2 linked regions of the Homo sapiens genome follow. The protein of the gene in region 2 purifies or fractionates together with the protein of the main gene of each other region. This does not show direct contact. Each region holds a gene or a part of one and is shown on either strand. Other genes may lie near its edges.

Evidence for each region.
Region 1: the proteins of PITPNB (region 2) and HSDL1 purify together in Homo sapiens (affinity purification with mass spectrometry; one large-scale study listed by BioGRID and IntAct). This does not show direct contact.

The regions. Positions count from the first base shown.
Region 1 is NC_000016.10:84,131,442-84,135,460, forward strand, and holds part of HSDL1 (inactive hydroxysteroid dehydrogenase-like protein 1), read right to left. Parts: intron 1-4,019.
Region 2 is NC_000022.11:27,916,457-27,920,663, forward strand, and holds the start of PITPNB (phosphatidylinositol transfer protein beta isoform), read right to left. Parts: upstream 2,801-4,207; 5' UTR 2,736-2,800; coding exon 2,716-2,735; exon of another isoform or gene 2,672-2,715; coding exon of another isoform or gene 2,646-2,671; intron 1,954-2,645; exon of another isoform or gene 1,939-1,953; coding exon of another isoform or gene 1,919-1,938; intron 1-1,918. UniProt on the Homo sapiens protein: Catalyzes the transfer of phosphatidylinositol and phosphatidylcholine between membranes. Also catalyzes the transfer of sphingomyelin.

The sequences.
Region 1 (4,019 bases), on a different chromosome or scaffold from region 2:
AATAACACTAACTTTTCAAATGTACGTGGCTCACAGTTTCAGTCTATCTATCTATCTATCTATCTATCTATCTATCTATCTATCTATCTATCAGACAGAGTCTCACCCTGTCGCCCAGGCTGGAGTGCAGTGGTGCGATTTTGGCTCACTGCAACCTCCACCTCCCGGGTTCAAGCGATTCTCCTGCCTCAGCCTCCCAAGTAGCTGGGACTACAGGCACATGCCACCACGCCCGGCTAATTTTTTTTTTTTTTTTTGAGACGGAGTCTCGCTGTCGCCCAGGCTGGAGTGCAGTGGCGCAATCTCGGCTCACTGCAGGCTCCGCCCCCTGGGGTTCACGCCATTCTCCTGCCTCAGCCTCCGGAGTAGCTGGGACTACAGGCGCCCGCCACCTCGCCCGGCTAATTTTTTGTATTTTTAGTAGAGACAGGGTTTCACCGCGTTAGCCAGGATGGTCTCAAACTCCTGACCTCAGGTGATCCGCCACCCTTGGCCTCCCAAAGTGCTGGGATTACAGGTGTGAGCCACCATGCCTGGAGATTCAGCCAATTTATGATCTCACCATTTAACATCCGTAGCTTATAAAGTTACTTTCTTCCAAGGAGACTAATCAACATAACTACCAGAAGTTACCAAATTCCCACTAAAATTCAGGTACTACACTACATGCTGTGGCTACAGAGATAAACACAATATGCTCTGTGCCTGTAACATGCTCCTAGTCTAATAATAACAAACACAAAGCTTCTAATTCATACAGCAGAGGTACATGTATTTCTTTGCTTTATTCATAATCAGCAAGAATGGAGGACCTACTACCTGTGTAGGGACAAAGGAGATGAAACAGAGGTGGCACTAAGACATGGCCTTGGCCTCAAAAGCTTACAATCCACTGGAGACAAAACTCAGCTTTCAAAAACCTTTACATCAATTAAAAAAAAAATTTTTTTTAAAGAGATACCCTCCAAGCTTGGAAAAATGGCTTCTCAAATGACAATAGAGGGAGCACTCCTCCATCTTCTAACTTAATTTGTAACCATTATGTTGCCTGGTCTCTTACATTTGAGGAAAGAAAAGTCCAACACAACTCTGTTGAGTGTCCACATAGCAAGTATATACTAAGCACCTACTATGTTCTATGTACTGTGATTCAAAGGATTCACAGATGAACTAAATGACCGTCCCTAGGTGAAGACGCAGACATTTAACAAAATAATGTAAAATGCCACATGATGTGGTAGGTGTGTGCCTGCAATCAGAGATAACCCTGCAGAAGTAGACAAAGGCCAGGCATGGGGGGTCTGGCCACAGACCGAGTGAGTGGACTTCATATCAGGCTAAACCAACCGTGTGCATCCTGCGAAAGACAAAATATCAAAACAACTGCAATAGACTACACTTATATTACAGGGAACTCAGATACACACAAACCCAAGGACACAGCTTATATTCTAAAAAGAACATGATTTTAAGCCAAAAGAAAAAGAAATATAAAACTTCTGGGGGTGGCAACTTTTGAAGAAATCCCTTTAAAATAGAAAAAAAAAAAAAAGTCTGGATACTAAGAAAATACCCAACAATAGCAGCACAAATTAGCCTAAGTTTGAGAAAGAATGGGGAATTCCCTCCTACTCCACTGCAGTGTAATCTGAGCTCAACAAAGTTTTGCAAAGTAAAAAAGGAACCAAGCAGAAGAAAACAAATGAACCACTGAAACGGAACACATACAAGAATGGCACCATATTGTGATAAAAGGCATATAAAATAATTTTAAAACTATTGAATAAATATATATAAATGTGTAGTGTGAATTACAAATCAACAAAACGTACACAAGAAATATGACTGAAAACTGAAGAAATGGAGAAGCAGTAGGATTCCTAAATGCCCTACGATAAGGAAACAATCTCTCTAAAAAAGAAAGTTTCATACTGGTACCGTATTAAGTTGATATTGCTGCTATATTAAGTTACCAAATTAAGCCAATGTGGCATTAAGTTTAAAAAATGTTTTCCTCAGCCGGGCGCGGTGGCTCATGCCTATAATCCCAGCACTTTGGGAGGCCAAGGCAGGTGGTCAGGAGTTCAAGACCAGTCTGGCCAAGATGGTGAAACCTCGTCTCTATTAAAAATACAAAAATTAGCTGGGCATGGTGGTGGGCACATGTAATCCCAGCTACTTGGGAGGCTGAGGCACAGAACTGCTTGAACCCGGGAGGAGGAAGTTACAGTGAGCCGAGATCATGCCACTGCGCTCCAGCCTGGGCGACAGAGTGAGACTCCATCTCGAAACAAACAAACAAAAAAGTTTTCCTCAAATGAAAAGTTGGGCCCCTTTATTCCCTACAGGTAAAATGCTGTCCACTGGGGCTCTGTGCACAGAAACTCACCTCCCACAATGAGAATGCCAAAGTTCATCATGAAAAGGAAACATTTTAAATTTGACTAAGTACATAAACCAAATACTTAAGCTAAAAACAACTAAAATAAATGCTCCTTTGGGGTAATTTTTCTTTATGAACCAGATTGGCTGAGATGACCTAAAATATGAGCTGTCTAGTTCAACAAAGTCTTTCTTTTTTCTGAGCAATCTTCCGTACAGCAGTCACCAATACCCCTTACTGCTCCCAAATCCTTTGATTGACAATCCTTTGAAATATATTCAAAGTTAGGGCCCCCCCTTCAGTGTAGCGAACGAGCATACCTGTTTCCAGATCTGCATGAGAGGAAGCCGCGCCACCACCCCTCCCACAACCCTCCTGCTGCTGGATATGCTGATGACGGGCACGGTATCAGAGTTTTCACACTGGCTGTAGCCCTTGAACAGTCATAAGTACTGGACTCCCAAAGACAGGCCCAAAACATTAATATCCTATAAGAACATTAAAAACTGACATTCCAGCCAGGGACGGTGGCTCACACCTGTAATCCCAGCACTTTGGGAGGCCGAGGTGGGCAGATCACTTGAGGTCAGGAGTTCAAGACCAGCCTGGCCAACATGGTGAAACCTGATCTCTACTAAAAACACAAAAATTAGCCGGGTATGGTGGTGACTGCCCAGCTTGGGTGGCTGAGGAAGGAGAATCACTTGAATCAAGCAGGCGGAAGTAACAGTGAGCCAAGATTGCACCACTGCACTCCAGCCTGGGCGACAGAGTTAGACTCCATCTCAAGAAAAACCCCAAAAAACAAACAAAAAAAACAACCGAGATTCTATGTTAGACCATCCTAAATTGTGAGTTCCGGAAATAACTCATAAAAAGTGTGGGTGCCTTTTGTCATAACTAATCAAACACAAGGCCATGAGGAAAGTAAATGCAAAAACAATTACCTGTATGTAATTACCTGTATGTACCAGGACCTCTCAAGCAAAATGTAATAAAATTGGGAATAACAAGCTATGACTAAAGAAACCTAGACACTTGGAATATTAAGCTTATTCTTCTAATAACAGGTAGGCATACATCTAGGCTGTTAAAACAGTGTTTTCAATGAAAAAATAGATACTACAGGCCAGCCACGGTGGCTCGCGCCTGTAGTCCCAGCACTTTGGGAGGCCGAGACGGGCGGATCACGAGGTCAGGAGATCAAAACCATCCTGGCCAACAGGGTGAAACCCTGTCTCTACTAAAAATACAAAAAATTAGCAGGGCGTGGTGGCGGGCACCTGTAGTCCCAGCTACTCAGGAGGCTGAGGCAGGAGAATGGCATGAACCGGGGAGGCAGAGCTTGCAGTGAGCCAAGATCGCGCCACTGCACTCCAGCCTGGACGACAGAGGGAGACTCCGTCTCAAAAAAGAAAAAAGAAAAAAAAAAAAAGAAAGAAAAAACAGATACTACATATCAAGATCAATGGGTTGTAGCCAAAGCAGTATTTGTGGGGAAATGAGTTGCTCCAAGCCTATAGAGTAAGGCTCTCGCTACAAAAAGGAGGTCAGGCATGCCTCATGGAGGAACCCACACAGATGGAAGCTTCCTCCTTAAGCCCGATTTTTTTCAAGAATCTGAACCTTTTTGAAG
Region 2 (4,207 bases):
ATAACTTGAAGGGAAACAGCCCACCTCGAAAGTCATTTCTAACATTTTAATTCTTATAAAAAAATAAATAGAGGGCCAGGTGCGGTGACTCACACCTGTAATCCCAGCACTTAGTGGGCGGATCACCTGAGGTCATGAGTTCCAGACCAGCCTGGCCAGCAGGGTGAAACCCTGTCTCTACTAAAAATACAAAAAATTTAGCCGGTCATGGTGGCGTGCGCCTGTAGTCCCAGCTACTTGGGAGGCTGAGGCAGGAAAATCGCTTGAACCTGGGAGGCGGAGGTTGCAGTGAGCAGAGATCATGCCACTGCACTCCAGCCTGGGCAACAGAGACTCCGCCTCAAAAAAAAAACATAAAAATAAAAAAGAATTTTATAAGACAACAAACATTTGCCAAAGTATTTTAGTTACCAATATCTTCACATAGGAATAAGCTATTCATTGCTCCTAACCAACAAGAATTTTAGAAAGTTGACTTGAGAGTAAGAAGTATCAATTTTTCATTGAACAACACTGAATTCTTTAGAGCATGTTAGGCCTAGATGCTGTGCTAGATACCGACATTACTTAAGAAACAGCTTCTACCTTCAAAAAGTCTAGGAGGAAAAAAAATCTAGGGGAGATACACATGAAGAGTTAACATCAAGAAACTTAATTTATAACTCTTTGGGAAAAATAATTAGACTTTGGGCACGTGTCAACATTCATTATCTGGGTACATTTAAATCTTCATAATGAAAGCAAATGTTTGCAAAAAGCACAGTGCGCAAATTCCCAATAGGAACTGCTTTCCAAGAGTTAGCTTCATACTACTCACATACTGTCAAAGGGATCTACTGAATACTGTGTGTCTGTAACACTTTTGGAGGGAGGAAATACTCCAATGAAAGAAAAATGACTGGATCTATTTAAAATCAGTTCTGCAACTCACTTGCTGTGTAACTTGGTCCAAGTCAATTTCCTTCTTATTTTCTCCATTTGTTTTAGTGTCTGCCACCCATCTACCCACATCATCTAGAAGTCAGAGTAATGAACACTTGTTTGATACACTGTATAAACGACTTGGAAGAAAAGTTTTATATAAACCCAATATTCAGTACTATAAATAAGCTTTAATTGAGAATTTTCACTCTACCAAAAAAAGGCAAAATGTCTCTTCTCAAAATCCCTGTCACTGACCAAAGTTATCATTTTTCATCAATTCATTAACAAATATTTACTGAGCACCTATTACATGCGAGGGACTATTCTAAAAACTGGGGATATGAGAGTGAGCAAAACAAACTCATGGCCCTTACATGTAAAAAGAGAACACAACTAGTAGGAGAAAAATAATAATAATAAATTGTATTGGCATGTTGGATGGTGATAAGTACTATGGAGACCGATAAAGCAGGGAAGACAAATACCACCCCAAATAGTGGGAACTACAATTAGGTCTTCAGAAAGGGATTCCCTGAGAAGGTGACGTCTGAGCAAAGACCTGGAAGAAGGTGAGTTAGTGTGCCAAGGGAAGAACACTTCAAGCAAAGGGAACAAAAGCAGGTGGAAAGGTCTTGAACTGAACTTATTCTAGAGTAGCAGAGGAACAGCAAGGAAGCTTGCGAAGATGGAATGGGCAAGGAAAAGGTAGTAAATGAGATCAGGGCAGGAAAAAAAAGTGTAAAGCCTTGTAGCTGTTGCAGAGGCTTTGACTTTTATTCTGGGTGAGACAGGGAGTCTTTGGGAGGTATTAAGTCTCAGAGAAGTGCATCAGTGACTTTTTAAAGGAGGTTTAAGAACACTAAAAATAAGGTGTCTGAAAAAAGCTAAATTAAGCCAAAAATATTTCTAAGAATTTAAAATGAAGAATTTGAAAACCAACGAATGGGCCATACTCGACCTCCCTAGCTGCCCAAAGGATGCTGACGACACGAACCAGCTGTGACAGACGAACATTCAGAGGCAAGCAGATTTCCGTAATGTTTACAGTCCTTGCCAGTAGGAAAAGCCGTGACTTTTCAACAAAATCACTTGGCCAGTCGGATGCACCTCGAAATCCCTCCATTTGACAGAGCACGTGTTAACTTCTAAGAAAGTAGGTGGGGCCCGGGATGTCACCTCATCTTAAAACATGCGGAAACCAAAAAGAGAAAAGGCTCTCCCGTCAAGTCAGCGGAGCTGCCCAGGAGAGCGGAGGCTTTCCGGAATCCCGGCTCCACCACGAACTTCAAGGCGCCAGCGTCCCACCGCGAGTCCTGACACGAGGGCTGCCTTCAACCGGCAAGCCCATCTCCCGCTGGTTACCAGGGGACTCCACCCCGGACGACAAATCACAGTCAGAACCAACGTGTCTCTCCCACCCTCGGACTGCGGCTCCTTCCCACCGGCGGGCCTGGGGGTGGGCCCAGACCCAGCCTGGGGGTGGGGGGTTGGGGAGAAGGCGGGTCCCAGCGGAAACTCCCGGCCGCGCCTTCCCGAGCCATGCGCTCGGGCCGGGACCCAGCCGCCTTCGCCCCGGGGAAGGGAGAGGGCGTGTTACCACGGCAATGCCTGGAGGGCCGAGGGGCGCACTCGCTGAGGGGCTTCGAAGGGGCCGGGGGAGGGAGGGGGCGCCCGCAGGGAGGGGCTGACACAGGGCTGACTCCGATTTAGGAATATCCTACCACTTCTCCATCAACAAATCTCCCATCACTGCCGTCCCACGGCCTCGCTCGCGCCCACAGACCCACTCACAATTCCTTGATCAGCACCATCTTCCCGGAACCCCCTCACAGCTGCCGCCGATACCACCGCCGCCGCCGCCGCTACCGCCTCTCACAGCGCCTGCGCGGCCCCGCCTCCCTGCCCCCCCGAGCCACCATCGCGCCTGCGTGCTTACACCCTTCCGCCGCGACCAGTCGCGTCAGCGCGCGAGGGGGCCTAGCTCCGCCCAGTTTCGTGCCCCACCCCGGGCACACGAGGCCTCCACTGCGGTTGCGCAGCCTGCCGAAGAGCGTGCGGCTTCTACTGCGGCTGCGCAAGCTCGACGCGCGCACTCTTGTCTGCTTACGAGGGCTCCTCCCTTCAGCTTTGGTCCCTCGGGGCGTCTGGGCAGCCTACGCTTTCCGGTGAGTTTTCCAGTTGGTTCTTTGGAAGCCGTTTTGCGGTGACTGGTTTTCTGCTCTCTCTCACTGCTCCGAGTCAGGGCCCACCTCCTTGACCGACACCTCACCTCCATAGTCCACATAAAAGACTCCTGACAGGTTCTGGAGGCAGCCGACGCCAGCTTCTGTTCCCCTCCCCAGCCCTTGGCAGCTCAGGTTCCGCGGGAGGACGTTCACCTGCTTCGCGGTCTCGTGGAGGTCCACCGCGGCGGAGAATCCTAAACCTCACCTGTGACTCGGCAGGATGAGCGGCCAGCACTCCCGACGGAGGCCCTCTGGGAGAAAAGAGGCCCTTGGCCTCGAGACCCAGGAAAGCGGGCTGTTCAGGAGTTGGTTCGCGCAGTTACACCGAAAGCGCCGTGGGCCTCAAAGCCGCAGCCCGGAGGTCGCTGGCTTGCTCTGTGTCAGACACGGTTCTAGGCAGTGGGGATGCATCTAGAAGCAGACACAGTCCCTGTTCTCAAGAAGCTCACAGTCTAGAGGAGACAACTCACTTGGAAAGAAAGCAGGGAGAATTTGGGGTGGTGGGGAAGTGCTATGCTATGAATACAGTGGAGTACTGGGAGAAGCAGAGGACTCAAGACAAGGGCTGTCTTAGGAGGCGGTGTTTGAGCCTAGCCTGTTAGGATGTGAGAGGGGCATTCCAGTTGGAGGGAAATATGACCCGAGGATGGAGTAAGCCTAGGGTGTTCAAGGATCAGCTAGAGGGCAGATGTGGCCAGAACATCCTAAGTGAGGGTGGGAAATGAGCTGGGACCAACTGGATTACTAGGCCATAGTAAAGAATTTGTCTTCTAAGAACCATGAGAACCTGTTGAAAGGCTATTAAGACGATTAAAATATCACGAAAACATTTTTGTATAAACATCTGGTGTATCTGATAGTGGAATACATCTGTGGAGTTAGGGCTGCCTCCAAAAAAATAACGGAAATGGACTGACTCAGTGACTCCCAGGGACTGCCTTAGGAGAAAGTTTCTGGAATGTCAGAACTTCCAGAAACTTTCTCCTAAGGCAGTCCCTGGAGTCACCGAGTTTCTCTTATGTGTGACTAGTGCTAGTTATTGTGAGGGCAGAGATTTA